Homo sapiens: one gene and its partner. The protein of the gene in region 1 purifies or fractionates together with the protein of each later gene. This does not show direct contact. Each region holds a gene or a part of one and is shown in the gene's direction. Other genes may lie near its edges. The genes, in order: TMIGD1 and ACAA2.

What was found.
Region 2: the proteins of TMIGD1 (region 1) and ACAA2 purify together in Homo sapiens (co-immunoprecipitation; one study listed by IntAct). This does not show direct contact.

What each region holds. Positions count from the first base shown.
Region 1 is NC_000017.11:30,323,775-30,327,601, reverse strand, and holds part of TMIGD1 (transmembrane and immunoglobulin domain-containing protein 1 isoform 1 precursor), read left to right. Parts: intron 1-2,507; coding exon 2,508-2,786; intron 2,787-3,827. UniProt on the Homo sapiens protein: May control cell-cell adhesion, cell migration and proliferation, cell morphology, and protects renal epithelial cells from oxidative cell injury to promote cell survival.
Region 2 is NC_000018.10:49,803,428-49,807,254, reverse strand, and holds part of ACAA2 (3-ketoacyl-CoA thiolase, mitochondrial), read left to right. Parts: intron 1-3,827. UniProt on the Homo sapiens protein: In the production of energy from fats, this is one of the enzymes that catalyzes the last step of the mitochondrial beta-oxidation pathway, an aerobic process breaking down fatty acids into acetyl-CoA.

The sequences.
Region 1 (3,827 bases):
GGCAACAGAGTGAGACCCTGTCTCAAAAAAAATAAAATAAAATAAAATAAAATAAAAAGCCAGCTAAGGAAACTAAGGCCCGGACTAGGGGCTCAAATCATAGGTGCAGCTGAGAATAAAACACTAATTCCCAAGCTTCTAACCTAGTGCTTAAGTGCTTATTCCACGAAACTTTTTTTTTTTTTGAGACAGGGTCTCACTCTGTCACCTACACTGGAGTGCAGTGGCACAATCTCAGCTCACTATAACCTCTGCCTCCCAGGCTCAAGTGATCTGCCTGCCTCAGCCTTCCAAGTAGCTGGGACTACAGGCGTGCACCACCAGGCCGAGCTGATTTTTGTATTTTTTGTAGAGACGGGGTTTTGCTATGTTGCCCAGGCTGATGGAACCCTCTTAAGGGAGACATGGCAGAAATGCCAACAATGTGATTTGATGACTTAAAGAAATTGTTTTCAGTTTTCTAGCCTCAATCCACTGTTTAAATTCTGTTTATAACAATCTCCTAAATATCATTGTTGCTAAGTGTGTGTGTGTGTGTGTGTGTGTGTGTGTGTGTATAGTTAATTGCTCAGTAATCCATAATGACAGTACTGACACAAAGTCATCAACCAATAAATCAAAATGAGCTCATAAAATGTGACAAGGATATTATGTACCCTTCAAAGGCAGGACCATTATTGTTATAAATAGCAGAATCAAGAACTAAATGGAAGCTTGATAATACACTGTTTGGGGGAGAATGTGGAGAAACAGGTCCTCTCATACCTCGTTGCTGAAAGTTTAAATTGAGAACACCTCTTTCAAAATACTTATCAAAATTTAAAGTGTGCATATCTTACGACACACCATTTCTCCTTCTAGATGTTAACGTTGGAGAAATACATGTACAGGATCATAAAGAGATATGTACAAGGATGTTTATTGTAGCATTGTTTAACATTTTAAAATGAAAACAACCTAAAGCCCATCAAAACACAAATGATTAAAGGCATACATTATACTATAGCATTCTAAAAGCAATAAGCTAGATCTCTGTGGTTCAATATAAACATATCTCAAAAACATGCAAGTTACTGAGAGAAAGGAAGTATTTTATGTAAAACCTTCCCATGTCCCTAAAATAATATGATATATTTCCTATGGGTACACTATATGTATAGAAAACTATTTAAGAAAAAAGAAAGATAGGGAAGGATTTACACCAAACTCATAACAGTGGGTATCTCTGGGGATCAGGAAGTGACCAGCTTGGATCTTAGCTTTATCTAAAATGTACTAATTTTTACAGAGGGGATATTCACATATACTGATATGCTTAAATTAATTTCAAATAGTTAAATAGAAAGAAATCACTAACAGAATCTGTCCACAAATGGAATTGTTCCATTTGGCAATTATGTTCTCTATTCCAGCAGCTTCCTTCCTATCTGAATACCATATAACATCCTTGTTGGATATGATACAGAATTCGAGCTCATTCCAAAGAGCAACAAAATGTCATTCTTCTGAGAGAGTTATTAATAACACAGCCTACTCAGGGTCTAATTATTCAGTGTGCAGATTATACAAGCTCCTTTTTCCTCCTTCTCCGTCTCTATCTTTTTCCTAGTTCCCACTCTCCAACCATTTCATTACTATTCTGCACTTCTGCCAGAATATGCACAGTGATAGATGTGTTGACTGTCTATGGGTCTACAACTGCCCTTATTGTAGAGGAAAAAAGGAGTTGCTCACACACAGGGATGAGAGGGACTCACTTGCCTTCCACAGATGCCAGAGTTCTCATGCTTAGAACACCTTCTGGGAGGAGGACATTATTTCTAGAGCACCACTGAGAAAACGCAAAGATGCATTGGTGAATATGTTACCAAGGCAATGGTTCGATAAAATGCAAAAACAGACGGTGAGAGTAACCCTCAAAACCACCACCACCGTAATAATAATAGCGGCTAGCACTGTGGCAAATTCTTTACAGGGATTATTTTATTTAATCTTTACAGCATCTCAGGAGATGTATGATTATCCCATTTTTTTTTTACATGAGAAACAGAGGCCTTAGCAGTTAGTTAACTGTCTCAAAGTCACAGTAAACGGTGTAGATGGAATTAGATCTAATTGCAATGTATGTCTTCTTAATTTTGTACTGTTTTGTGCAACACTAGCACAGGTTGGTTTATTAATTCTCAGAGAAGAAAGACTCAAGGCTTATACTCTTGGGTAGTGTTACAAATTGTCTGCTTGTCATAGATCATTACTATATATATCATGCTCATAATCATATATTGTTTCATGGTTTGTCTTCTTCATCACATTAAAAGTTCTATGAGATTTGGAACTGGAAGTGTTATTTGCCCTTGTTACCCCAGTGCTTGTCACACCGTACGTATTTAATAAATTTTTGTCAAATGAATAAATGACCACATGAGATAGATTGAAGGAAGACTTTGAACTCTGACAGTGAACTATTGCTTATCTGCTAATTAAATCTAAATGCTTGAGTCTTGCAGTTCCTCCTCTCCTAAGTGGAAACGACTTCCAAACAGTTGAGGAAGGCAGTAATGTGAAGTTGGTTTGCAATGTGAAAGCCAACCCCCAGGCTCAAATGATGTGGTACAAAAACAGTAGTCTCCTCGATTTAGAGAAAAGCCGTCACCAAATCCAACAGACAAGTGAGTCTTTTCAGCTGTCAATCACCAAAGTCGAGAAGCCTGACAACGGAACCTACAGTTGTATTGCAAAGTCATCTCTGAAAACGGAGAGCTTGGACTTTCACCTGATTGTTAAAGGTAATGCTCTTTTTAAGTAATACCCAGCACAGTGCAAAACTCACACCAGATGCTCAGTGAATATTTCTGGTGACAATAAATGATAATAACGGTTATGATTAGGGCCAGGATTTTCTTTGGAGAATCATCCCCATCCAAGGATTTTTCCACTAAGAATCCTAGTCCATCCTTTCAGGGAAATCATGCCCATTCCATACAGGACACTGTTTTTTGAGCAAGAATCCTTTCTTAGAACCAAATATAGGAAACAATCCTGCTTGGCTTTTAGGGAAGAGTATTTCCATGAATTCTCCTGGGCAACAATGTGTGTAGCAACTGGACTTTTGAGTTCACAGCTTCATAACTAACAGAAGTAAAAAACACACAGAGAAGAGAAATTAGGACTAGATAAGAAAATGGATCCCTACAATCACTCCTAACTCAAATTCTAACCTGTAGGGTAATCAGCAGAGAGAGTAGGAAAAAATAAGGGGACAAAAAAGCCCTTTCTCTTGGATTCATGCTTCATCTACCCAGGGTTATCACCTCTACAATGACAGAACAAATGATGCTCTGTGGGGTTTTCCCTCCTCATATTTCTTGCTCATACAAAAAGAGAAAGGCAAAATACCTGGGGTAGCAGATGCCAAAAATGCTCATTCACACATGGTCTGCTCTCATGCTAGCACACCAGGAGCAGCCCAACAAGCTGAGACTCCCATATCTTGTTAGAACATTACTCACTTTGTCATTTGCCTCCCTGTACTCACTTATTGCCAGTCTTGTCAGTCACCAGGAAGCCAGCTGAACCCCTGCCAGAAGTGTTGTGGTGATGTAACCATAGGACATCTTATTTGCTTCCCCTTGAGGGGAAGAGTTATGGGATATGAAAAGAGTGGCTAGTGGGGAAGAAGACTTACTGGTGGTTGAATGCCCATCACTGTGATTCCTGGAATGATCAGTAATTCGTCCTGCGGAGCACTAACAATTGCTCAGGGGCTACTTGTTTTAAAAACCAAACCCACAAATATCCTGAATACCCATGAGATAGAAGCAGTGAAA
Region 2 (3,827 bases), on another chromosome or scaffold:
CCCAACTAATTTTTTACATTTTTTAGAGATGGGGATCTCGCTATGTTGCCTAGGCTGGTTTCAAACTCCTATCCTGACACAGTCCTCCCACCTCAGCCTCTTGAGTAGCTGAGATTATAGGCTTGAGCCACAGTGCCCAGCCCACTATCAAAGTTGACGCATTTTTGCCTGGATTCATTTTGTTTGGTATATAGATGTTTTGTTGTTCCAGCACTGTTTGTTGGAAAGACGATCCTTTTTCCAGTGAATTGCCTTTCCTCCTTTGTCAGACCTTGAGGTTCTGGCTTTGTTTTTTAATCTTTTTTTTTTCATCTGTTCTTCAGATTGGTTAATTTCTATTTATCTATCTTCAAAGTCGCTGAATTTTTCTCCTTTCATTTCTATTTTGCTGTTAAGCCCATCCAGGGAATTTTTTATTTCAGGTATTTTCCAGTTTTGGAATTTCCATTTTGGATTTTTATAGTATGTATTTCTTTACTGAGATGTCCTATGTTTTATTAGGAGCATATTTTCCTCTACATCCTTGAGCATAGTTGTAATAGAATGCTATTTTAAAATCCTTGTCTGCTAATTTCAGTGTCTGGGTCTTCTTGGGATTGGTCTCTGTTGATTGTCATATTTTTTGTTTCCTCATATGTGGATTAACTTTGAATTATATTATGAATATTGCAGATGGAACATTGTGGAGACTGGATTCTGTTATAATCCTGCAGACAGAACTGACTTATTGATTGGTTGGCTATTTATTTTTTGTAGACAGTTACTTTGCCTACAAAATCACCCCCATGCACCCCCGTGATAAACTATGTCTCCCCTTGTAGTGGGCAGCAGCTTAAATCTAAGTTCAGTTTTTTAAGGCTTGGCTTAGGTGCTTGTGGTCTGACCTACACATGAATGGCTAAGGAGTCAGCCAAATATTTGGGCAGAGTTTATATGTGAAATTTGGAATCTCGCTCTATGGTGCTCCTCTTTCCCAGATTCTCATTCACTTTCTAGTGGCTGTGCTTACCATGAATTTTATTCTCTGATTCTTCAAGCCAGTAAGACTGTTTCTGAGTTCTAGCCATTCCATGCATCATGGACTGTTAGTCTTCAAGTTAGTTGCTATAAATAAATTGGACACTTACCCTGTTCTGTTCCCTTCCTCTAAGTATCAACTCTTCTCCTTACCTGTCTAGTTTTGTTCATTTCCAAGACCGTCAGGTAGTAGTTGTTCTTATATATTGTCTGGAGTTTTTCATTGTTATCTGTTGGAGGGTTGGTCAGATAGGAGCATAGTAGGCCATGACCAGAAGCAGAACTAATGAAATTAGGAAGAAGGCATGGAAAGAGGAAAGAAGAATGAAATAAAGCAACCACTGATAGGCCAGGTGCAGTAGCTCATGCCTATAATCCTAGCAGTTTGGGAGGCCAAGGTGGGAGGATTGCTTGAGCCCAGGAGTTCGAGACCAGCCTGGGAAACATAGCAAGACCCCATCTCTACAAAAAAAAAAAAGAAAAAAAGGTAAAAATTAGCCAGGTGTGGTGGCACATGCCTGTAGTCCTACCTACTTGGGAGGCTGAGGCAGGGGGATCACTTGAGTTGGGAAAGTCGAGGCTGCAGAGGTCGAGGCTGCAGGGAGCTGTGATCACATCACTGCACTCTAGCCTGGGCACAGAGCAAGACTGTCTCAAAAAAAAAAGAAAACACTGATATAAAAATAGGCAGAGACTGTTAAGGAAGGAGGATGAAAGGAAACTTGAAAAGATTCAGGAAGGCATCATGGTACAGAATAACCAATTTACCAGAACAAAACGTTTGTAATGCACTCGACTAGTATTTATGGCCTTTTGTAACTATCTGAATTTGTATCTGTAAAAAACTGAGTGGATCTGTTCTAAATTATAGTTATATATATTGCTCCTAATATTCCTTTAAACTGCAAATTTCTCAAAATAGGAATGAAAAGAGAGGTTGAAATAGAAATATTTTAGGCTAGGCTTGGTTTGTTTGATGAAAGAGATCATAAACTGGAAGATTATACTTAGATACCAGTAGTGGTATAATGCTTGAATAGTCTCATTTGTAGATCAGTATCTTATCACAAACCCATTGCCGAAAGTCCCATAATTTCTTGACAAGATGTGGAAATGTGAGCTTAGATTGTCTTGGAGAGAATAAAGTTAGTATATGCAAAGTGCTAGCATGAAGTCTATTCCATAGTAAGTGTCCCCTCTATGTTAGCTATAATATTTACCTTGCAGAGTTGCTGGGAAGATTAGCTTTTGTGTGGAAAGTGATAAAATGTCTAGTATTTAGTAGACACCTAATGAATGTCAATATGATGAAATGGCTATAACTGATGCTGCTTACTGATATGCCGGTTTTGCACTGTACAGCTCTAATGATGATGAGTGGGTACCACTCACATCATAATCATATATTTGTATAGTCACAAGTTTTTTTTTGGCAGATGGTAGTAGGTGATTGGGAAGGGGTGATTTTTATTTATTTGTACAAGGACACCGATTTAACTAATAGTGATGCTGCAAATTTATAGTCTTAGTTTGTATTAGTAGATGTATAGATAATTCCTCTATTCTTTGTGATTAGATAAAATGCATGCTATTTTTGTTATATTCTTATATTCTAAGGGACACATTTTAATAGGATGTTGGCAAACTACAGTGTCTTTAGAGGAAAGCAGTCAGAATTAATGTCAAATAAAAAACTATTGAAAGAATGCCTTTAATTTACCTGAGATGAGAGTCACTAGGTTTGGGGACTTACAGGTTAGCTGACTTCAGATACTGGAGGTGGGGGATACACATGTAGAAGGTAACCTGTTTTGCCCATTTTTTTTCTAAGAGTAAAAGATAATAGTTCAGGTTATTTATTTGAAGTCTGTAACTTGAGTCATCCTGTGACTCTAGAACCGGTAGCAGCATATATTCTAGAAACTACATCTCTATCTGTGTTGGTGCTTTTGGAGAGAACTAGAATTGGTGGATGGAAGACTTTGTAAGCTGAGTTAGTTCAATATAAAGAAATATCATTCGTTGGGGCCGGGAGTGGGTGACTCACGCCTGTAATTCTAGCACTTTGGGAGGCTGAGGTGGGTGGATCCCCTGAGGTCAGGAGTTCAAGACCAGCCTGGCCAACATGGTGAAACCCCGTCTCTACTAAAAATACAAAAATTAGCCGGGCCTGGTGGTGGGTGTCTGTAGTCCCAGCTACTCGGGAGGCTGAGGCAGGAGAATCACTTGAACCCGGGAGGCGGAGGTTGCAGTGAGCCGAAATCGCGCCACTGCGCTCCAGCCTGGGCGACAAGAGCAAAACTCTGTCTCCAAAAAAAAAAAAAAAAAAGCAATATCATTAGTTTATGTTGTCCATGACCAGCACACTGTTTCATGCAGTAGAGTATGCCCTCTTACTGAAAGTTTCCTGGCAGAGGTTTAGAGAGAACCTTTTGTCAGGAATTTTTAGAGGTAGTTCTTATAGAGTGAGTGGTTGACCTCAGACAACCCTAAGGCACCTTCTAGTTTGGAGATTCTTTTATTCTAATACTAGGCAATATACTCCAGCACATAGAAGAAGGATTTTAGTTCTCAACATATGTTTCTAGCATTGTGAAGCATCAGAGAACAAGAAAGTTGTCTAACCAGAATGGCTTTACATCACAGTGTAGCAGGACGAGCCACAGTCAAAACTCCTCAGACACTGGATTAAAGAAGGAAGAGGCTTTATTTGGCTTGGAGCATCCACCAACTTGCGTCTTAAGAGCCGAGCTCCCTCAAAAAGAAATTCTTGGCCCTTTTAAGGGCTTACAACTCTAAGGGGTCCACCT